Linked DNA regions of Homo sapiens: regions 2, 3 and 4 are each linked to region 1. Evidence: fine-mapped expression QTL. A gene starts in region 1. Each other region holds a variant in brackets. All regions are shown on one strand. Distances are from middle to middle.

What was found. PIP is the estimated chance that this variant, and not a neighbour inherited with it, causes the effect.
Region 2: its variant is the best candidate, but not a certain one, in a credible set for the expression of ABLIM3 in whole blood (GTEx, PIP 0.53).
Region 3: its variant is the best candidate, but not a certain one, in a credible set for the expression of ABLIM3 in whole blood (INTERVAL, PIP 0.57).
Region 4: its variant is the best candidate, but not a certain one, in a credible set for the expression of ABLIM3 in prefrontal cortex (BrainSeq, PIP 0.79).

Annotation. Positions count from the first base shown.
Region 1 is chr5:149,138,293-149,143,908 of GRCh38, reverse strand. ABLIM3 (actin binding LIM protein family member 3) reads right to left here and starts at 2,416. Exons shown (of 24, transcript NM_014945.5): 1 at 2,255-2,416; 2 at 1,801-1,900. The coding sequence starts at 1,813. It overlaps LOC124901102 (a long non-coding RNA gene), which reads right to left and starts at 1,793. Exons shown (of 2, transcript XR_007058988.1): 1 at 1,120-1,793; 2 at 311-476. RefSeq lists enhancers at 994-1,493, 1,494-1,995 and a silencer at 2,301-2,550.
Region 2 is chr5:149,089,326-149,094,941 of GRCh38, reverse strand. All of the region lies in intron 2 of SH3TC2-DT (SH3TC2 divergent transcript), which reads right to left. Among named protein-coding and RNA genes, the nearest start is that of SH3TC2-DT, 29 kb to the right of the region's middle. The variant A/G (reference allele first, on the strand shown) is at 2,902.
Region 3 is chr5:149,160,144-149,165,759 of GRCh38, reverse strand. The region is part of intron 2 of ABLIM3 (actin binding LIM protein family member 3); the gene reads right to left. Among named protein-coding and RNA genes, the nearest start is that of ABLIM3, 21 kb to the right of the region's middle. The variant C/GC (reference allele first, on the strand shown) is at 2,342.
Region 4 is chr5:149,223,915-149,229,530 of GRCh38, reverse strand. All of the region lies in intron 8 of ABLIM3 (actin binding LIM protein family member 3), which reads right to left. Among named protein-coding and RNA genes, the nearest start is that of AFAP1L1, 45 kb to the left of the region's middle. The variant TTTTTTG/G (reference allele first, on the strand shown) is at 2,455.

The sequences.
Region 1 (5,616 bases):
TAGTGGGAAAGGACTCTCATAAATACATTTTTTTTTCCTAGAGATAGTGAGAAGTGACAGGCAACTCACATCTTTATTTGCCTGAAAACATGCAAATGCAAACATGTGACCCACTAGCTGATAGAGGCTACAGGATTTTCCTCTTTTCCTGAGCCTGGTATGAAGCCAAAACACCATTCCAGCCTGTCAAAATCAAAAGGCAAAATTCTTTGGCTGTAAGAGGCAGAGGGAGTCCAGCCACACTCGCTAGCTTAGCATAGATATGCAATACACAAAGGAAGACAGCAGAGAGATGAATCATACAAATACGTAGTAAATAAATATATTTTATTTTCATCTCAGTAGCTTTTGCTTTTTTTTTTCTCTTCCATGCTAGGAGGTGGGGGTGGGGTGGGGTGTGTGAGGAAATAGTAGGTTTTGGCTGGATACAGCTTCAATAAGGTCTTGATAGTTCTGGCCTTGTTGCTCAGCTCTAGCTTTTTAAGAAAAAAAGTGTAGATTCTTAGATTAGAAGGCTTTCTTTTATTATTATTATTATTATTTTTTGAGACAGAGTCTCACTCTGTCGCCCAGGCTGGAGTGCAGTGGTGTGATCTCGGCTCACTGCAACCTCTGCCTCCCAGGTTCAAGCAATTCTCCTGCCTCAGCCTCTTGAGTAGCTGGGATTACAGGCCCACACCACCACACCTGGCTAATTTTTGTGTTTTTAGTAGAGACGGGGTTTCATCATGTTGGTCAGGCTGGTCTCGAACTCCTGACCTCGTGATCCACCTGCCTCTGCCTCCCAAAGTGCTGGGATTACAGGCATGGAACACGGTGCCTGGCCGATTAGAAGGCTTTCTAATTCAACCCCTCTCATCATACAGATGAGCAGTCTGAGATGCAGAGAGGGGACTGATAACAAAGTCATAGACCCAGGGAAGTGACTGTTCATAGGGGTTCTCTGGTTCAACAGCCCTATGCGATGCTGGAATAACCTAGACAGGCCAAGCTGACAAGAGGGCAGGAGAGTGAGTCTGGAACCAAGATATGCCCTCCCAGGTCACAGCGCTACATTGAAGAGAAACAGACTGTGCCTTCTTGAATTTCGGACTGCATTCTCAGTAGCTGAGGCCCTACCTGGCAGCAAAATATCTGGTCCTGGCTCTGCAAGCAGTTGTTGCCTCTGGCATGTTAGAGCCCTTGGCCAAAGGGCTGTTCCTGTCTTCTTGTTCTCAAGGATAGCTAACCAGCCTGCAGGTACATAGAGAAACCAGCCCTGGGCCCACCGGGCTGCAGGCACTCGGGAGCTGGATCTTTCACAATCTCCAGACCCAAAGGTGGCTTGGCGATTATTTGTTTATCAAACTGCGGCTTCCCAGCCCACTGCCTGCCCACACCCACCTACCCTCCCGCCTGCCCACAGGCCAGCCTCCCTGCTCTTCCCACCTCTGGGACAGGCAGGGCCCTCCATGGTTTTCCAGATGTGTGCAGGGAGTTCTCCTCAGAGCCCCCACAGTCAGACAATGGCCACACACTGCTTCCTAGGCCTTCCCAGGCAGTGCTAGAAGGAGACGAGCAGCCTTCCCAGGAGAGGCGGCCGGCGCCGCTGATAAAATATTGGCAAAATTATCACGAAAAGCCAGAGTCATGAAGCTATCCCTCTGCCAAGGAGCACGGAAAGCACCAAAAAAGAGCCTGGGGGTCATGTGTCCAGAGATGCCAGGCTTCCTTCCTCTTTCCAGGCAGCCCGAGCGCAGGCTCCCTCACCTCCCGCCCCCACCCCTGTTCCCATGGCAAAGGAGAGGAGGATCCACTTACTGCTAGTGTTCATGGTGATGTCTTTGCACTGGGTCTTTCATTCAATACGGAGGCCCCGGCTGCTTTTTAAATCTTCCGTTCTTCGAACCTCACTCATCACCTGGGGGGTGAAAAGGCAGTCCAGTGCCAGCTCTGTATCCTCAGGTGCTCTCTCTCCCTCTGCTGTCCCCTCTCTGTCTGGGCTGTAGCCCCTGGCCTTGAAGGCGCGTGGACTAATAGGCGCAGGTGAGAGCAAGGAGAAGGAGGCGGCAGGACACCGGCGCCCCGGTCCTCCTGCTCCTCAGATTGGAATCCCGGGCAGAAGTGGGGTTGGCAGCGCCTGCTCGCGCGCACCCCGGACTATTCCTGCCCAGCGGCTCCGGAGCCCAAAGGGGGTGTGGACCACAGGGAGGCAGGGCGGGGGCAGCGCGTCCCCGCCCGGCTTCAAGGAGCAGCGACCCGCCCCGGAACCCACCTCTCGGCCAGTGTCGGGAGCCAGAGGCCCCTGCCCCGGCCCCTGCGACTGATTTCATGAATCCTGGTCCTCGTCTGGGGTCTCGAATTCCAGGGCTAGCAATGCGAAATAGGGGAGCTCGACATCCATGATGCGGGCTCGCGGGTTGGCAGCGCAGGGGGCGCGGCCGCTCGCTGCTGCCACCTGCTGGACGCACCGGCGCGTGTCCGAGGCCCCGCCCCGCCGGGCTTCTGCCTGGGCCCTAGGGTGTGATGGGAGATGGACGAGGCCTTGTGAGATGGACGAGGCCTTGTGTCCTGGGACCAACGAGGGAGTGCTTGAGCGCTTGTTTTCCCTCCCTCGATCCTGGGGTTCTAAGGGCTCGACAATGATAGGAAAAGAAACATCATTAGGAGGGGCCGTGAAGGAAAACCTGGCTTTGCAGGAAGACAGTTTCCACCCGGCTCTGCTCTGGCAAGCTTGGCGCAGTCTAGGCTCAAGCCGGTCACTACCGTCTCTGCCTCATCTTTCTCAACTATGAATATGGCGTCTGGACAAGTGGATAACACGTAAGGGGCTCTTCCAGCCTCCCAGCGTTTATGTCCCCTCTTCCCTCACAGATTCCCTTTATCCTCTATCGCTGATTCATCATTAGAATTGTTTATTACCTCTTTTCCCCACGAGAATGTTAGCTCCGTGAAAGAATGGGTCTGTCCGTAGGGTTCACCTACAGGCCCCCAATACCTAGCACAGGGCCCGGCATATAGTGGCTACCAATAAATATTTGTTGACAGAGCAACCCAGACATTTTCTGGGTTTAATATTACACAGCCCTAAGAGTAGACTGCCTAGGCGCCCCACCCTGAAACACTTCCCCGTCTGAGGAGAACAGCAGGTATGTGGCCTCACAGGTCCACCCTAGTTTTCATATGGTCAACTAACTCTTCCCCCAAGTTGTTGTTGTTTTTTTTTTTTTTTTTGTAATTATGTCTTATACGTGTGTATTGTAGAAGTTTATATTCCAAAGTGTTTTAGTCACAATTGATTCAGTGGGGTAGGGCTCTTTACATTCCTGTGACTACTTACTCTGTCACTTTCTGAACCTAATTCATGATCATAGAAGCATGACTTTTGAGTGCTGAAAAACAAGACTGTGAGGGCACATGATCCTTGTCTATAGCATGACTTCAATTAGAGCATGTGCAGACTCAAAAGGCTGTGAACACTCACAGCCCCAGCTTAGACAAGGAAACAGGGTGTCAGAGAGGCTGGGCAACGTGCCCTAAGACACACAGCATCTTGTGGCAGAATCGGACCAGATCTTCTCACTTCTAGCTTGATCCTGTGTGAGAGTGGCTCAGTGCACTAAAGTCTGGGATATCAGTGTGAGATTAGATAGCTGCCCTATTAAAATTGGGGAAAGACAAATACGATGTTTTTATACAATGCTTTTAGATAAATACAACGTTTCTACCTTACACAGGGAGGAAAAAAAGGATATGGCTCATGACCCCGAGAGGTGATCAGGATTAAAGAATCTTTGGATAAACCTAAGGATCAATAGATTTGAAACACATTTGATAGATTGTTAAGAATTTTGTCCACATGTTCTCACTCATAAGTGGGAGTTGAACAATAAGAGCACATGGACACAGGGAGGGGAACATCACACACTGGGGCTTGTTGTGGGATAGGGGACTGGGGGAGGGATAGCATTAGGAGAAATACCTAATGTAAATGATGAGTTGATGGGTGCAGCAAACCAACATGGCACATGTATACCTAGGTAACAAACCTGCACGTTGTGCACATGTACCCTAGAACTTAAAGTATAATAATAATTTTTTAAAAAAGAATTTTGTCCAATGGGGTGGAGGTAAAAATAGCCCTAATGTCCTCACGGTCGTTCTTAAAATTTTGTGTCGATAACAAACGCCTGAGATACCTCCAAAAATGCAGATTCCCAGGCCCTGGACTCCCTTGCTCAGCATTTGAAACAAGCATCCCAGGTGATTCATAGACAGCTCTTTGAAAAGGGTAGAGGCCTAAAATAGCTTTGAAAACGTAAGTGATTAGTAAATATTTAAATTATTCCACTTTATGTGTCCTCTACATTTTCAGATGGGATTCCTTGTTCAGTTTCCAAGTTGCAGGTAACTTGCTAGATTCTAATGCTTGGAAAAACATTTTTCTGGGAGAAAGTTCAGATAAATTAGACATGTAAAATTAACTGTTCTATTCCATGAGCATATTTAGTTATCACCCAAGGCCTCAATGTTCAGAAAATTTCAAATTATAAGAAATAGTCAAATGAAAGCATGATATTCATTCATTAGTTCATTCACTCAGCAATTATTTATCGAGGGTATGCTTTGTGGTAGCCCCAGTGCTGGCTTCTGGGGATACCGTGGAGAACAGGACAGACAAGAGCTCTACCCAATAATGGATGATTGCAGAAAAAATAAAAAATAAAGAAATAAAAAGAACTCCAACCTCATAAGCATAAATCCAATCCTGGGACAGCGGGGAGACAATTAACTAAGCAAAATATAAATTAGCTAAACCCGATGGTGGCCTGGGGAAGAGCCCAGGTGCCGTTTCCAGCCTTCCTGACTTTTAATCTCAGCTTCATCACTTTCTAGCTGTCTCACTTTGGGGAAGATACTTAGCCTCTATAAGCCTCAAAGTTTTCATCTGTACAAGGGTACAACCACAGTGCCTACCTTTTGGATTGTCGTATATATTAAAGGACTTAGTGTAATGCATGACAAATAAAGGCTGGTTGCATACTAATTATTAATATCACCCCTCACTTATACCTGCCCTCAGTGACAATGCTGTCATTTTCTACTTATGGAAATCTGTTGGGCTTTTCCACAGAGTGGTGGCCACGAAAATATGCCTGAAAATTTTCAGGTGATTAATTAATTGATAAATTAATTGATGAATTAATGAATTAATTATTCATCAATTAATGAGATTAATTGATGAATTCTTCTTGTCTGGGGTTCTTTTCGATAATGTATCCAGCTAGATGCTGATGACTTCACCTCTTAGAAGAGATCACTGGGTCTTGGGCCACTTTTTAAGGCCCAAATAACATCTGCCGGGGGAACAATCTTATTTTCTCTGCATAGTTTATAAGGATAGGAAAAAAGGGGCTAAAATAAGCTATACAAGCTATGCCCTTGAGGATGTCCACAACAATCAGAGGCAGCGGGAAAGACGCAGGAGGAAGCTGGGGGTGGGATTCTCTGTGGACATGGCTGTGAAAGTCATCAGGGGATCGGTGTTGTTGACTCTGTCCTTGCAGGAGAATGGAGCTGAGAACCACAGAGCAGAGGATCCCTTTGTCTGGAAGTTTGTTTTGAACATTAAGACTC
Region 2 (5,616 bases), 49 kb after region 1:
GGGACTGGGAGTGCCTACAGGCTCTTCCTGCTGCTTCTTCTACTTTTTTATTTCACTTGGCTCTCTAAATTTGCTTCAGCTCTAGGTAAGGTTAAATCCTTCTTCAATGATCTGTGTTTTCAGGTTCCCCAGTAAGGATGTGTGTTTGGAGGCAGACTTTCTCCTCTCACAGTTTGCAGCAGCAAGCTGCTTCCTTCAAAGGGTCTGTGAATTATTTTGGTTTTCCTGGTTGTTCTTTTGGTGGTTCTTGGAGCAAACATTCACTGTGTAAGTCTCCACATGCTGCTCTGCCAATCCAAGTAGGAACTGCAAGTTAGTCCTTCCTCCTAGCTGCCATTTTCCCTCCTACTCTAACATCATTATTTTGAGTATTTTATCTGGGATTTCATAGATTTCCTTTTGACTGAACTCTATTGCTGGAGAATTACTGTGTTCTCTTGGAGGTGTCATATTCTCTTGCTTTTTCATGTTTCATATGTTTTTACATTGATGTCTATGCATCTGGTGTAACAGTTGTTTCTTTCAATTTTTGAAATTTGCTTTCATAGGGGAGGGTACTTTTTTGAAGATGTATCTATGGTGTTGGTTGGGTCGGGCACTTTGCCATTGATTTTGGATGTGTGCAGCAGTGTGGTCTCCATATGATTTCTTCAGCTGTAAACATCGTCAGTGGTGTCTGTGATTTCCTGAGTGGCTTAGGGTGCAATTGTTAGTGGAGTGGAGACTGTGGCAAAGTTTTGCTGGATACAGCAATGCCAGGTGGTCCTATCTTCAGACCTCTGTGGTGGCAGCAGTGGGCTGAGCATGCCTGCCCTTGGGCTCCAGGGTGGCATATATTGGCACTGGTTTCAGTGGTTCCAGGCAGTCCAATTCTTGGATCCCCAGGTGGCTTTCTCAGGTGCTGGTAGTAGCAGAGTTGGGCTAGGCAAGCGGGTGGGTTTTCAGGCCCCTGGGCAATGGTCATGGCATGGATGATTGTAGTAGCAGTAGATGGACTAATCTCTGGGTCCTACATGGTCTGTACTTGTGTTGACAGTGGCTGTGATGTGCTGGGTGGGCCAGTCCGTAGGCCTATAGGTGTGTGCCCACTGTGGTGGTAATGGCAGGTTGGGTGGGCTTGAACTCAAGCTTCCAGGAGGAGTGCTCAGGTGCCAACAATGGTGGACTGGGCTGGGTGGTCCCCAGGTCTCTGGACCACATGCTCTGGTACTGGTGGTGGGGGAGCAGAGCAAGGCTGGGCAAACTGGTCCTTAGTCCTCCCAGGGGTACTTGCAGGTACTAGCTGTGGTAGGCAGAGGCAGGGTGAGCCTTAGGCCCACTGGTAGCATGTGTGGGTGAGTATCAACTGCAGTGGCAGTGGCAGGCCGAATGAGCCTCACCTCAGGCCCCTGGGAGAAGGGCTCAAGTGCCAATGGTGATGGACTGGACTAAGCAGTCTCCAGGTCCCTGCACTGTGTGCTCTGGCACTAGGAGGTTTGGGTGGTGGAGTGAGCCACGCAATTGTGTCCTTTAGGTCTGCTAGTGGGGCTTGCAGGTGCTGGCTATGGTTGGCAGGGGTGGGGTGATCTCCAGGCCCAAGGCAGAATGTTCAGGTGGGGACTGCAGTGGCTGCACTCCAGGCCTGCTCAGGGCTTGTGGGAAGGGCAGGGTTGCTTTTAGTGGCAGGAGCCATATGCAGGTGGCTGGGGAGTATGCATTTTGCTCATGCTTGAATCCTGGCAGTGGCAGCCATAAGCAGCTGTTGAGGGTAGGGGGGTTTGTCATTGCGATGCATGAAAATATGCAGTGGCTTCATTGTGGGGGGCAGTGGGGTTTTGCTAATGGCTTACTCTTCTGCCTTGGAGTCTGTGGTCTCTTGGAAGCTGGGCTCTCAATATGGCATTTTGCTGTAGCTGCTTAGGGCTTGGGGTGTGTGGGGCCCAGCATGAGCTCTCTTTCTGGAACAATGCCTTTGATCTTCAGGCAGCTTTTGATATTAGTCTTGAAGACTGCAAGGGTCTAGGGCTTTCCCATGCAGAGGATGCAGGAGTCTATAGTGGAAATGTTAATCTCTGGGAATCACTCACTCATTCTTTCGCTGCATTGTGGAGCCTCTCCAGGCTCCCAGCCAATCCTGGCCAAGCAGACTGCCTGACTTCCCTCTGCTTCCTTGCTTTGGATTTTCCTGTCATTTCTCAGTTGAATTCCAGTGTAGTTTCTTAGATGATATATTCAAAGTGTTCTACTCTATTTAGATTCTTCTTTGTGGAGGAGGCAAGCACCAGATGCCTTTAGTCAGCCATCTTGAAGCCTCGCAATTCACCTATTTAAATTGTACAGTTCAGTGATTTTTAGTATAATCACATAGTTGTGCAACCATCATCACAATCAATTTTAGAACATTTGTGACATGTCATAAAGAAAGCTTGTGCCCTTTAGCTATTACTCTTCAATTCCCCCATACCTCCCAGCCCCAAGCAACTACTTACTGTGTGTATAGATCTGCCTATTCTGGACATTTCAAAGAAGTAGAATCATACATGCAGCATGTGGTCTTTTGTAATTGGCTTCTTTCATTTAGCATAATGTTTTTAAGGTTTATCTATGTTGTACCATGTATTGGTATTTCATTTATTTTTATTGGGGAATAATATTCTATTGTATGCATATACCACATTTGTATTCATTCATTAATTACCAGGCATTTGGATTGTTTCTACCTTTTGGCTATTATGAATAATGTAACCATAAACATTCATGTGCAAGTTTCTGTGTGAACATAACTTTTCATTTTTCTTGGGGATACAAAACTAGCAGTAGAGTTGCTGGATCAAATAATAACTCTTATGTTTAACATGACTGTATTAGTCCATTTTCATGCTGTTGACTGATAAAGGCATACTCGAGACTGGAAAGAAATAG[A/G]TACTTAATTGGACTTACAGTTCCATATGGCTAGAAGGCCTCAGAATCATGGCAGGAAGCGAAAGGCACTTTTTACATGGTGGTGGCAAGAGAAAATGAGGAAGATGCAAAAGTAGAAATCCCTGATAAAACCATCAGATCTTGTGAGACTGATTCACTACCACGAGAACAGTATGGGGGACTCCACCACTCTGATTCAAATTATCTCCCACTGGGTCCCTCCCACAACATATGGGAATTGTGGGAGTACAACTCGAGATGAGATTTGGGTGGGGACACAGAGCCAAGCCATATCATTCCACCCCTGGCCCCTCCAAATCTCATGTCTTCACATTTCAAAACTAATCATGCCTTCCCAACAGTCCCCCAAAGTCTTAACTCATTTCAACATTAACTCAAAAGTCCACAGTTCAAAGTCTCATCTGAGACAAGGCAAGTCCCTTCTCTCAATGAGCCTGTAAAATCAAAAGCAAGCTAGTTACTTCCTAGATACAACGCGGGTACAGGTATTGGGTAAATACAGCCATTCCAAATGAGATAAATGGGCCAAAACAAAGGAGTTACAGGGCCCATGGAAGTCTGAAATCCAGTGGGGCAGTCAAATTTTAAAGCTCCAAAATGATCTCCTTTGAATTCAGGTCTCACATCCAGGTCATGCTGATGCAAGAGGTGGGTTCCCATGGTCTTGGGCAGCTCCACCCTTGTGATTTTGCAGGGTACAGCCTCCCTCCCAGCTGCTTTCACAGGCTGGTGTTGAGTGTCTGTGTCTTTTCCAGGCACATGGTGCAAGCTGTAGGTTGATCTACTATTCTAGGATCTGGAGGATGGGGGCCCTCTTCTCACAGCTCCACTAGGCAGTGCCCCAGTAGAGACTCTTTGTGGGAGCTCTAACCCCACATTTCCCTTCTGCACTGCCCTAGCAAAAGTTCCTCATGAGAGCCCTATTTCTGCAGCAAACTTCTGCCTAGGCATCCAGGCATTTCCATACATCTTCTGAAATCCAGGCCAAACCATAATTCTTGACTTCCATGCACTCGTAGCCTCAACACCACGTGGCAGCTGCCAAGGCTTGGGGCTTGCACCCTCTGAAACCATGGCCTGAGCTCTGTGTTGGCCCCTTTCAGTGGCTGGAACACAGAGCCCAAGTCCCTAGGCTGCACACAGCATGGGGACCCTGGCCCTGTCCCACAAAACCATTTTTTCTTCCTAGACCTGCAGGTCTGTGATGGGAGAGGCTGTCATAAAGATCTCTGATATACCCTGGAGACATTTTCCCCATTATCTTGAGGATTAACATTCAGCTCCCTGTTACTTATGCAAATATCTGCAGCCAGCTTGAATTTCTCCTCAGAAAATGGGATTTTCTTTTCTACCACATTGCCAGGCTGCAAATTTTCCAAATTTTTATGCTCTGCTTCCCTTTTAAAATGGAATGCTTTTAGCAGCACCCAAGTCACCTCTTGAATGCTTTGTTGCTCAGAAATTTCTTCCACGAGATACCCTAAATCATCTCTCTGAAGTTCAAAGTTCCACAAATCTCTAGAGCAGGGACAGAATGCTGCCAGTCTCTTTGCTAAAACATAACAAGAGTCACCTTTGCTCCAGCTCCCAACAAGTTCCTCATCTCCATCTGAGACCACCTCAGCCTGGATTTCATTGTCCATATCATTATCAGTATTTTTGTCAAAGCTATTCGACAAGTCTCTAGAAAGTTCCAAACTGTCCCACATTTTCCTGTTTTCTTCTGAGCCCTCCAAACTGTTCCAACCTCTGCCTGTTACCCAGTTCCAAAGTTGCTTCCACATTTTTGGGTATTTTTTCAGCAATGCCTCACTCTACTGGTACCAATTTACTGTATTACTCTGTTTCATGCTGCTGATAAAGACATACCAGAGACTGGGAAGATAAAGAGGTTTAATTGGACTTACACCTCCACATGGTTGGGGAGGCCTCAGAATTATGGCAGGAGGGGAAAGACATTTTTTATGTGGTGGCAGCAAGAGAAAATGAGGAAGATGAAAAAGCAGAAACCCCTGATAAAATTATCAGATCTTGTGAGACTTATTCACTACCACAAGAACAGTATGGGAGAATCCACCACGATGATTCAAATTATCTCCCAGTGGGTCCCTCCTACAACACGTGGGAATTATGGGAGTACAATTCAAGATGAGTTTTGGGTGGGGACACAGAGTCAAACCATATCAATGATGAAGAACTAACAGACTGGATTTTAAAAGTGGCTGCACCATTATACATCCCCACCACCATTGTATTAAGGTTCTGATTGCTCCACATCCTTGCCAATACTTGTTATTTTCTGGCCTTTTGATTGTAGCCATCTTAGTGGGTATAAAGTGGTATCTCATTGTGGTTTGGATTTGGCTTTCCCTGAGGACTAATGATGTCAATCATCTTTCCATGAGCTTATTGGCCATTTATATATCTTCTTTGGAGAAACATTTGTTCAGTTCTTTTGTTTATTTTTAAATTGGTTTATTTTACTTTGATTTTTAAATTGTAAGAATTCTTTATATGTTATAGATATGTGTATATATATATTTATTTATATATTCTATATTATATCAGATATAAGATTTGCAAATTTTGTCTTCTTGGGTTGTCTTTTCAGTTTCTTGATGGTGTTCTTTGAGGCACAAAAGTTTTTCATTTTGATGATGTCCCCAGCATCTCAAAATTAACAAAATGCTTCCA
Region 3 (5,616 bases), 22 kb before region 1:
TGAAATAAACATGAGTAGTGAAGGGAGGAGAAGTAATCAGAATGAGTGAGCAGGGAGAAAGGTCTTTCCAGGAGGTGCAGTAGACATGACTAGGGCAGCGTACATACAAAAGACAATCCATTTGGAACCACATGCATGATATCAAGTGAACAGCTACTTCAGGGAGATCTTCTTTTGACTTCAAAGGCTTAGGAGCCAATAGATTCCTGTTTCACTTGAGCTAGTTGGAACTGGGTTTTGGTTACTTGTACTCTAAGAGTTCTTACTAATACAAAGTCTTAAAGAGGAGATTAAAGGTTTGCACTATTATAGTGCAAGAACAACCAAAAACAATACATAAATGTATTCCAATAAAATGTATACATAAATGTATTCAATTCAATGCATAAATGTATTCCCAAAAATGTGTTCCAATAAAAATTTATATACAAAGACAGGTAGTGTGTCAGAATTGACCCTTGAGCCATAGTTTATCCACTCTTGCTACAGAATCATTCAATGGGCTAGAGAAGTATACAGAATCATTCAGTGGGCTAGAGAAGAACTGATTATACCTATTTTACAAAGCCTGCTCAGAGGTTATTTGCCTGGGTTATTAGACTAGATGACCTTGAAGGCCCCTTCCCACTGTGAGATTCAAGGATGCTTTGAATTGATTTTGTCTTAAGTATATAGAGGTAGAATCTCTACTTTCAATTCAAGCTATGTTCAGAAACTATGTTTGGAATGAAATGTGTCCTCCAACAAAAAGCCTCCAACCATAATTACCAGTTCTACAACTGAGCATATGTTGATGGAAGCCTCGATTCACAGTGAGCCAGTTAAAATGCAAGAAAGGGACAGCTAGCAGATCTTTCAAGTTAGAGTCCAGGCTGTTAATTACTTTTGTAAAAGAAATACATAAACATACAGATGGCAATTACAGTAAATATGATCATCTACATATAAATATAAAAATCCTACCCACTCCTCAAGGCCTATCTCATATGCAACATACTTCTAGAAATACTTCCTGCTTCTCCCCTCCTCCCTCTCCAAATATGAGCTTTCTTTAAAAATCTCATGTCATGCGCTTCTTATGGGTAAGCAGTGGTTCTCAAACGGATGCATTCTCAATCCTGATGCATTCTCAAACGAGTATGCATCAGAATCCTTGGATGTCTTGTTATAACACATGACCCAGGGTTTTTGACTCAGGGGGTCCAGGGTAAGGACTGAAACTGTGCATTTCCAGCAAGTTCCTAGATGATGTTCATCCTGTGGGTCTGGAGACTATATTTTGAGAACCACTGACCTACAGCATAGTTTACCTATAATGTACCTACTTTTTCATTTGTTTTATATCTTTATCAGACTTCAAATTACTTGAGGAGGGATGCTACTCAGTTCTCTGTACCCTGGAGTATTCTTGTGGGCACTCAACAAACATTTGGACACACCTATGGGGTGAGCTGAGGAGTTAAGTTTTTGGTCAGCATAAATGTGACAGCTGTTTCTCACAACAGGTATTCTTGAGCCCGCAAGGAAGGCAAATGCAACACACTCGTTCCCACGAAACAACCAGCACAGGAGATTTCTGTGGCTAAACAACGCTGTAATGGAAATCACAACACAGTCAGGCCCACCATTCTGGTGGAAGAACAAAACCCAAATGAAACCCGTCAAATGGTTATGCAACTTTTACTACATATAACATGGTTACCATGCTTTAGGGGGGTGGGCAATAAAAAATAATAGAAATATTAAAGACTATCTAAATACCCTTTATAGGAAATCCAATAAAAAAGTATGTTGGAAATACAAAATGTTGACTTGTTGTGTGACCAACAAGAAGGGCTCACCTGGGGAAAAACCATCTTCCCTAAAAGCAGCAACAAAGGAAGCAGAGACACCTCCAGACAGTGATGGATAAGCACAGACTTGAAATTAGGGGAAGAGAAAATGTGAGGAGGGACTCCATGTTGGCTGAATTGGGTCCTCCTGTCCCTGTCTCTCTCACCCCCCAAATTCACATGATGAAGTCCCTACCCTCAGTACCTCAGAATATGACTTTATTTGGCAATAGGGTTTTTAAAGAGAAAATTAAGTCAAACTGAGGTCATTAGGATAGGCTCTAATCCAATATGACTGGTGTCCTTATAAGAGGGGATGGGACACAGGCAAGCACAGAGGGACAGCCACGGGAACTCACAGGGGGAAGATGCCCACCTATGTGCCAAGGAGAGAGGACTCAGAAGAAACCAACCTTGCCCATACCTTGATCTTGGACTTCTAGAACCCAGAACTGTGAGAAAATAAATTCCTATTGTTTAAGCCACCCCGTGTGTGGTATTTTGTTATG[C/GC]AGCTCTAGCTAACTAAGATAGACTGTAAATAATTATTTTAAATAGCATAAAGGATATAAAAGCTGTCAGGGAATCAGGACCATGCAATGGCCCTGGAGTAGAAGGTGCCCTGCCCTATCTTCCCAAGTCCCAGCCCCATCATCTGCTGCTTAGAGGATCCCAACATGTTGTAAGGAGTGGTCTCCTTTCCTCACTCATTCTACACACAGTAGCCAGGGGGATACATTCAAAATGCAATCTGATGATGCTTAACCCGGACTCCCACCACCTCCAGTGGCAACTTAAAACCATTCAATGACTTCACTCCACCCTTGGGATAAAGCCAGACTCCTGGCCATGGTCCACAAGGCCCTGTGTGTTCTGGCCCCTGTTGGCCTGCCCAGCCTGTCGCAGACCCTGCTCCCCTCCGGCAGGAGAAAGCAGCCTCACTGGCCTCCTTTCTTTTCCAATGCATCCTGCTCCCTCTCCACACTGGGAGATTCCCACTCCAAAACAGACACGCCAGAGATGCTTCCTGTTCAGCTGGGTTACGCGTCCTAGAAAACACATTTTGAGGCAGGTGGCTTTCAGCAGGGAGAAGTCCTGCCTGCTCATGCCCCACTGCCCTGGTCAGGTTAGCCATCAGGAGAAACTGTCTAAGCAGCAGCTGAAAAGTGTCAAAAGCATTGAGTGAGGGGACTGGCAAAAAAATGAGGCCTACGGAGGGGCACACAGGATGTTCTTCCCAATCTAGATACTGATGAATCCTGGTGACAGCACCATTCATCTGGGAGTTGTAAAAGGAACTGAAAGGTGAAATTGTGGGTCTGTCGGCCAAAATGAGTCACCTGCTCTGACGGGCATGATGAAAGGTTTCTTTCTTTCTGGTCTGGATTGCTCACGCCCTTCCAGACACAAAGAGAAGAAGCAAAGCCTCTATCCTATGGTCACTATTCTGTGTCTCTTTTGATCATCATTTAGTTGTAGAGACTATGCTTTTGGAATGAGATACTGAAACACATGAAGGGATGCATGGCCTAACAGTGGGATGAAATATTTTGAAATTAAGACAATTGTATATGAGGACACTAGACCCACAATGAACTGAGTCTTTTTACCTTGCCCCATTTACCTATAACCCCAATAAAGCTGTGTTTGTCTTGTGCTCAATTTCTGTGTCGAGTTGTATTAAATTTTAATGATTGAAAGAAACACAGCCAGCAACCAAAAGTAATAAAAAAAGCAATTCAAATCTTTTCTGGCTTTATTCTCAAAGAACAGTCAAGGGAGGAAGGCATCTGTTTAATAACCAGCAAAACAGAGGCTAACGCAAAGGCTTTCTCATTCATTGCCTCATTTGATCATCACCAACCACGAATCAGGTGAGGCAAGGATCACTCCGGCTATTTTATAGATGAGCAAACTGAGGCTTGGGGAATTGGGGAATGTGCCCAAACTTCAACACAGGTGTTCTGACTCCTAGTTCAGTAAGCTTTCTTTTCTCTATAGGCGCACACACACACACATACACATACACACACACACACAGCCCACGCATACACACACACACACAAAGTAGACCCCTTTCTACCATTCTGTGCCCTAAAATATTGGCTTTTTTCCTTGGTACTAATGGCAGAAAAAATGACTATTACAATTAAATTCAAGAAACCCCAAGAGATTCATTAACATTTGATTCCCAAACCCCAGCTAAGTGTGGCATTCAAACAGGAAAGGAAAAAATATCAAAGGAACACACAACGATTTTCACTTGCTCAGCCTCTCTAAGCTAGATTAATGCCTCAAAAAAGAAATACTGCCAGAATACCCCTCTTCTAACCAAAGAGGCACTCTGTCCCCAGTCGACTCCAGGAATCCTGGTACAATAATTAACGTGTGGGCCAGAGGCCCAAACTCACTGGCACAGGGCAGATTTTCAGATGAGAAACAGAGAAGCTCCAAATCCTACTCACATAAAGGGCTTATTGACATTATCTGCTGAAAAGAATACAGATTTCAAGAGAGACAGCCAGGCAGAGAGGGAAGGCAGAATTTTGGCCATGGAGGAAGTAGGTGGAGGGAAGGGTGGACTTCTCACCTAGCTCGGAGTCCCTAAGTCTTTCCCGGATCATTCTCTAAGTGTGTACCCTCAAGTGGACTTTGCTACTGGCTAAGGAGCATTTCCCATAGCACTGATGTCACAGACCCAAAACAATCCAGGTCAGCAAACACTTTCCACTGTAAACAGAAGGTTTCAGAGAGCTCCCGCGGGCAGATGAGCTGTGGGTGATGCCCAGGTGCCCTGGGCTAGAGGACAGGCTCCGGACCTGGGACTAACTCAAAGGACAGAAATGGCCTGGGTGAGGGCAGCCACATCCACACCCGGAAAACCCAAGAAAGAAGGTGGTCTGATTATTGGGAAGAGATAGAGGGAGGGGATTAGGGCTAAGAAGCCCCATGGCTGGCCGAGAGATGGGAAAGGAGCTGAATAAGATGATATGAACACGGGCATTCATTCTACTCGCTCTTGGGCCCACTGCTGGGCCTGGGATGAGGAGGGCCCTGGAGATGGAGGACAATTCCCCCATGTTAGACAGTTAGCCTGTGTGTACTTCAGATTCTTCCCAGCCTGGAGGTGCACACAGAACCCCCAGCTTACAGCCCAACAGATGGGCCATCAAGTATAGCCATAACTAGAAAGTGTCTCTGTCTTCCAAAGCACAGGATGTCCTAAGCCTTTCCTGAGTCCCTTGACACAAAAAGCTTTTCCTGAGTGAGCACACTACAGTGACACCAACTTTAACCTGGGGTCATTTTTTGGCACCCACCATGCCCTAGGGAAGACCTGGCTCCAAGCAGAAAGTCCCAAATCAGCACAAGTAGGTTACAAAGTTTATAAACCAAAGTTCATGTTTGTTGGCACAATTATTTATTCATCAATATTTACTGAGTAATTTCCTTCTTTTTTTTTTTTTTTGAGACGGAGTCTCACTCACTCTGTCGCCCAGACTAGAGTGCAGATGTGCAATCTTGGCTCAGTGCAACCTCCACCTCCCCAGTTTAAGTGATTCCCTGTGTCAGCCTCTTGAGTAGCTGTGATTACAGGCGTGCACCAACATGCCTGGCTAATTTTTGTAATTTTTTTTAGTAGAGACGGGGTTTTACCATGTTGGCCAGGCTGGTCTCGAACTCCTGACCTCAAGCGATCCACCCACGTTGGCCTTCCAAAGTGCTGAGATTACAAGTGTGAGCCACTGTTCCTAGCCTTACTGGGTAATTTCTATGTGCTAAGAAC
Region 4 (5,616 bases), 86 kb before region 1:
AAATCGGAGTGAAAAAGAGAAGAGAGGCCTGAAGTGAGGAGGCCTGTGTTTTTTGTCTCTGCTCAGCCCCTAACACATCCTCTCTCTGGGTCCCAGTTTCCTCATCTGAAGAACAATAAGGTGGGATTTGGGTGGCCTTGAAGATTATTTTCATCTCCAAGTTTCTAATTTTACGGGCAGTTTTGTCTTTTGTGGAACAAGAATCTTTGATTTTTGTCTGCCGACATACTTGGGTATTCCTTATTATTCAACTGGGTTTAATTCTTTCTAAAGTAAAATGCAATGGTTCTCAGAGCCCAGTAGAGGGACTCTGAGTCTGTGGCTTGATCCAGCAATCACAGGGTGTGTCCACTACCAAGCTGTGTGTTGGGATTCTTACTTTAGGGAGTTATTAGAGAGAGCGTTTCCGGTTCCTCTCTGAGTTGCTTCCGAATCTATCAGGAATTGTTTATGACTGTGGCTGTGGCAGGAAACACATGTTACAGGTCACTGTAGGAAATGGATGAGATGGACACAGAGGTCTGAGGAGGTCATGAACTTAAGTTAAAGAGACATAGGAAAGATCAAGAGGGCAGAAGTCCTCATACAAGGAAATAATGTGTCAAGCGAGGGGGTCAGACTAGAGGGTCTCTTTTGCTTTCTAACCCCATAACATTGGCATTTCACTCTGAAATAAAACTGAGCCAAAAATGGCCATTAACTTCAGCACTCTGCATACCGGAAAGCATATTTACATAAGAAACAAGGAGAGGAGGATCAAACAAGAAAAAAAATATAATTAGAAATGAAAAAAATCAGAATTTAGGAGTTGGTAGTATATCTGTAAATAAAAGAGGCTAAAAAAAGTTAGTTGGTAGCTAGCAATAAACTTACATAAAGAATGCAAGAAAAGATGATTTGTTCATGAAGATCCCTGTGAAATAACGGTCTTCTGAGCTTATTCCCTAGGCCAATAGCTCAACAATGTGACATTAACAGAAGGATAACATCATGGTGAAGAAGATGGTTATTCTCTTCAGTGGACTTTATCCCCAGAGCCAAAAACAGTGCCTGGCCCATGTGTGTTTAACAAAGAAATGCATGTGAATGACTCATTGGACCCTACCTTTGTATTTTTTTTCAAAAAGATACTAGGTATAATGCACCCATGAGAGGATGGTGACTATCCTAGGAAGGGGACTCAAATGCAATTCTAAGGCTGGGTCTTTACCCTGAAGAAGAGACTTAACAGAATGGTGAAAGCTGATTTTACAGATTTTAATGACTCTCTGTAGGAAGAGGCATTCATTTGTTTTGTAGAACTAGGACTAAGGGCAGAAGGTTCAGGCAAGGAACATTTAACACCTAAGAACTGAATGGCCTTATTCAACTGACAGTAAGCCCTTGTCCCTAAAAGTGTTTAAGTACACATTGGGTATATAAATGCTCAGCAGTGATATTAGGAAGGAGACTCAGCACACAGTACTTACACTAAGGGATGTTTACCAGCCCCCAAATCCTTAGAGATTCTGTTTCCATCTTAACAGGTTTTACTGTACCGAGAAGATAATTATTTGCCCCACCCATTTATCCTGATAAGAATGTAAATTCTATGAGGAGAGGATTCATGTCTGTTATACCTACAGATATATCTGCAGGAACTGCAGATTCTCAATAAATACTCATTGAGTGAATAAATAAACAAAAGAAACATGGCATTCTATCTTAGGCAGTTGGCTTCTCTAACTTGGGCCCAGAGATTTGGACAAGTAGTACAATCTAGACTCTGATTAGACAGCCACAACTCCAGACTGAGTCTACAAACATATTCACTATATTGGGGTGTGTCAAACTGTGACCTGTGGATCACCTGTCTTGCAGTCTGGTAAAATTCAGATTCCTGGGCCCCCCTGCAGAAGCCACTGACGCCAACTCCCTGGAGGTGGGACCTGGGAATCTGTGATTTAACAAGCTCCCCAGGTGATTTTATGACTCATAATTTGAGAACCACAGGGCTAAATACCAGATAACACTCTAAATTTATTTTCTTGGAATGTTATGTGATAAAGAAACCAATTTTATAAGGCAGAGCTCTAGCTTTTTGTAAGAGTACAACATTTTCTGCTTGTTCAACTCCTGGTTCCATGAGTCACTTCCTCCTGTCCTCTGAGATTGTCACCCACAATTCCAGGCTCTGCAGTTAAAACCTACTATGAAGGTTATGGAAGTGAAGGATTAGCTATTTCTGTATCAGCTGACTCAGAGATAGAGATGTTAATCTCCAAAACTATCTGTCAGCCAGGTATTAAGGCCATTTTTAATCGTTAGCAGAGTCAGCAGTCAGTCTTATCTCTCTGATTGGTTATAGCACACTCCACACCTGTAACATTTGGGGCTGATTTAATGTTGGGGAAGCCACCCACCTCTCTGCTACACCCTGATGTTAAATTTGCCAAGGCTTTTTTTTTTTTTTTT[TTTTTTG/G]AGATGGAGTTTCGCTCTTATTGCCCAGGCTGGAGTGCAATGGCACGATCTTGGCTCATTGCAACCTCTGCCTCCTGGGTTCAAGTGATTCTCCTGCCTCAGCCTCCTGAGTAGCTGGGATTACAGACATGCACTACAACACCCGGCTAATTTTGTATTTTTAGTAGAGATGGGGTTTCTCTGTGTTGGCCAGGCTGGTCTCAAACTCCCAACCTCAGGTGATCTGCCCGCCTCGGCCTCCCAAAGTGCTGGGATTACAGGGATGAGCCACCATGCCCGGCCAATGCTTTTTGTTTTTTAATGCCAAAGCTGGAGTTGGTATCATAGTCTTCTAGAATGTTGGCATTCTAGAGGTTACAAGTACAGTGATTGAAAGTGGTCCATTGGACGGTTCTGTTTAGTAAGCATGATTTTAAACAGTTCTGAGTCTGAAGGTTTTTAGATACTGCAGGTCACCAGTGACCCTCCCTACTTTCTGACTCCCAGCCCTTCCCACTCCTTGACGTGGGCATTGGAGTTTTTGGCCTTGACCCTAGCTAGGGCATTCTCTTACGGCAGGTTTCCTCTCTGGATTTCTTTTTTTGTTTTGAGACGGAGTCTCGCTTTATCACCAGGCTGGAGGGGAGTGGTGTGATCTAGGCTCACTGCAACCTCTGCCCCCAGGTTCAAGCGATTCTCCTGCCTCAGCCTCCCGAGTAGCTGGGACTACAGGTGCATGCCACCACACTCGGCTAATTTTTTGTATTTTTAGTAGATACGGGGTTTCACCATGTTAGCCAGGATGGTCTCGATATCCTGACCTCATGATCCACCCTCCTCAGTCTTCAAACTGCTGGGATTACAGGTGTGAGCCACTGCGCCTGGCCTCTGGATTTTTTTTTCACCATAGCAGGATGAGGTTTCTCAGACCTCTGCCTTTATGACAGCAGCACTATCTTTGTGGCAATAGACTGGGAGGAACCTTGGAACTGCTCCTTTAAAATCTCCATGCACATAAACCAACCCAAATGCCCATCAATCAATGAGTAGATAAAGAAACTGTGATATATATATATATATATATATATATATATATATATATATATATACACACACACACACACACACACACATATTATATACATACATACATATATATATATATATGTATATATGATGGAATACTACTCAGCCATAAAGGAAACAAAATAATGGCATTTGCAGCAACCCAGATGAAATTGGAGGCCATTATTCTAAGTAAAGTAACTCGGGAATGGAAAACCAAACATTGTATGTTCTCATTCATAAGTGAGAGCTAAGCTATGAGGATGCAAAAGCATAAGAATGACACAATGGACTTTTGGGGCTCAGGGGGAAAGGCTGGGAAAGGGGTAGGGGATAAAAGACTACAAATTGGGTGCATTGTATACCACTCAGGTGATGGGTGCACTAAAATCTCACAAAACGTCACTGAAGAACTTCCAAACACCATCCTGTTCCCCAATTACCTATGGAAATAAAAATTTTTTTAAAAAATCTTCATCCACATAAAAAATGTGGTAGATCCAAAAATGGAATATTGTTCAGCCATAAAAGGAATGACCTGCTGATACCTGCTATTATACGGATGAACCTAGAAAGCATTATTCTCAGGGTGAGAAGCCAGTCACAAAAGAACATATATTGTATGGTTCCATCTGTAAGAGCTATACAAAATTGGCAAATCCATAGAGACAGAAAACAGATTGGTGACTGCCAGGGGTTCGGGGACAGAGGAATGGGAAATGACTGCTTAATGGCATGTATGAGGTTTCCTTTTGAAGTGATGAAAATGATTTGGAACTAGATAGAGGTGGGGGTTGTACAACATTGTGAATGCACTAAAAGCTACCGAATTGTGCGCTTTAAAATGGTTAATTTTGTGTTATGAGAATTTTACATTAACATAAAAAATTTCCCACTCCTCTCCTCCCAGCAGGTGAATTGCTTCTGTAGACCAAGGCACTCTGTTCCTCCTTTGCTACTGAAAGTGCCAAACTCGGCCAGAGAGAGGAGTGAACACTGCTGTTGAATCTGCCCTGTAATAACAACAGTGTGATCATTATAATCTTGGGTGTTAGTAAATCTTTACTGGTATCAGGCACTCTGTGCATCATTTCATGTAATATTCTTAAGGGGTTCCAATCCTGGCTACATCATTTACTAGCTGCATTGTCTAGAGCAAGTCAGTTGCCTCTCTGTGCCTTGGTTTCCCTATTTATAAAACAGGGATGACAACAGTATCTGCCTCATAGGTTTGGTTTGAGGATTAATGAGTTAATCCATGCCCAGCACTTAGAACGGTGTCCGCCTATGTCAGGGACTATATAAGTGTTGGGTATTGTTGTTCTTATTGTCTCCTCTCCTCCACCTACAAAAATAATCTGTGTGCCAGGATCTAGTTTGGGTAAGGGGAGAGCAGTAAAAGGGAGACTTGAGGGGAGCAGGGAGCTGGGGCCTGGGTGAGCGAGGGGGCTGCAGCACATGGCAGGCTGGCTATGCAGGTGGAGTCACTGAACAGAAGCCTGGCTTGGTTGCCAGCGCACCCTCCTGGGAGGTTGGGCTTGTGCCCAGGGACAAGGGCACCTCGGGAGAAGTGGGAAAGACCTACTTGCCTGGAGCTGACATGATGAAGTGGGCCTGAAGCTTAATAAAGAGGTTGGAGGGAGAAAAGTGTTTAGTTACCATGAGGCTGGTTACCATGGAGGATATCGGGCAGGATGAGAAGGGGAAAATGGCAATTCTGAGGTGCCTTGTAATTCACGAGAAATAATAGGTGCTGATAATAACAGTTGGGACAGTAATTAAAGTATATTGAGTGCTTAGTATGTGCCAGGCCCTAAGTATTCTTATTATTCCTATTGTTACTATTATAACTAATATTTATAGAGTGTCGATACCAGGCCTTGTGTCACACACTTTATAACAATAGTGCTTAAATATAAAAAATAATAACTGCCATTTATTGAGTATATATGCTGCACCTTATGCTAAGTATTCTTAAAAATGCTGATAATATTGACAACAGCAAGCACTTACTACTGCATTGCAACATGGGAATGGCCATTTCTATATAACTGGCTGATTATCATGAGCTCAGACTGGCAGAACCAGCAATGCTAGTCCCTGTGCTGAGTC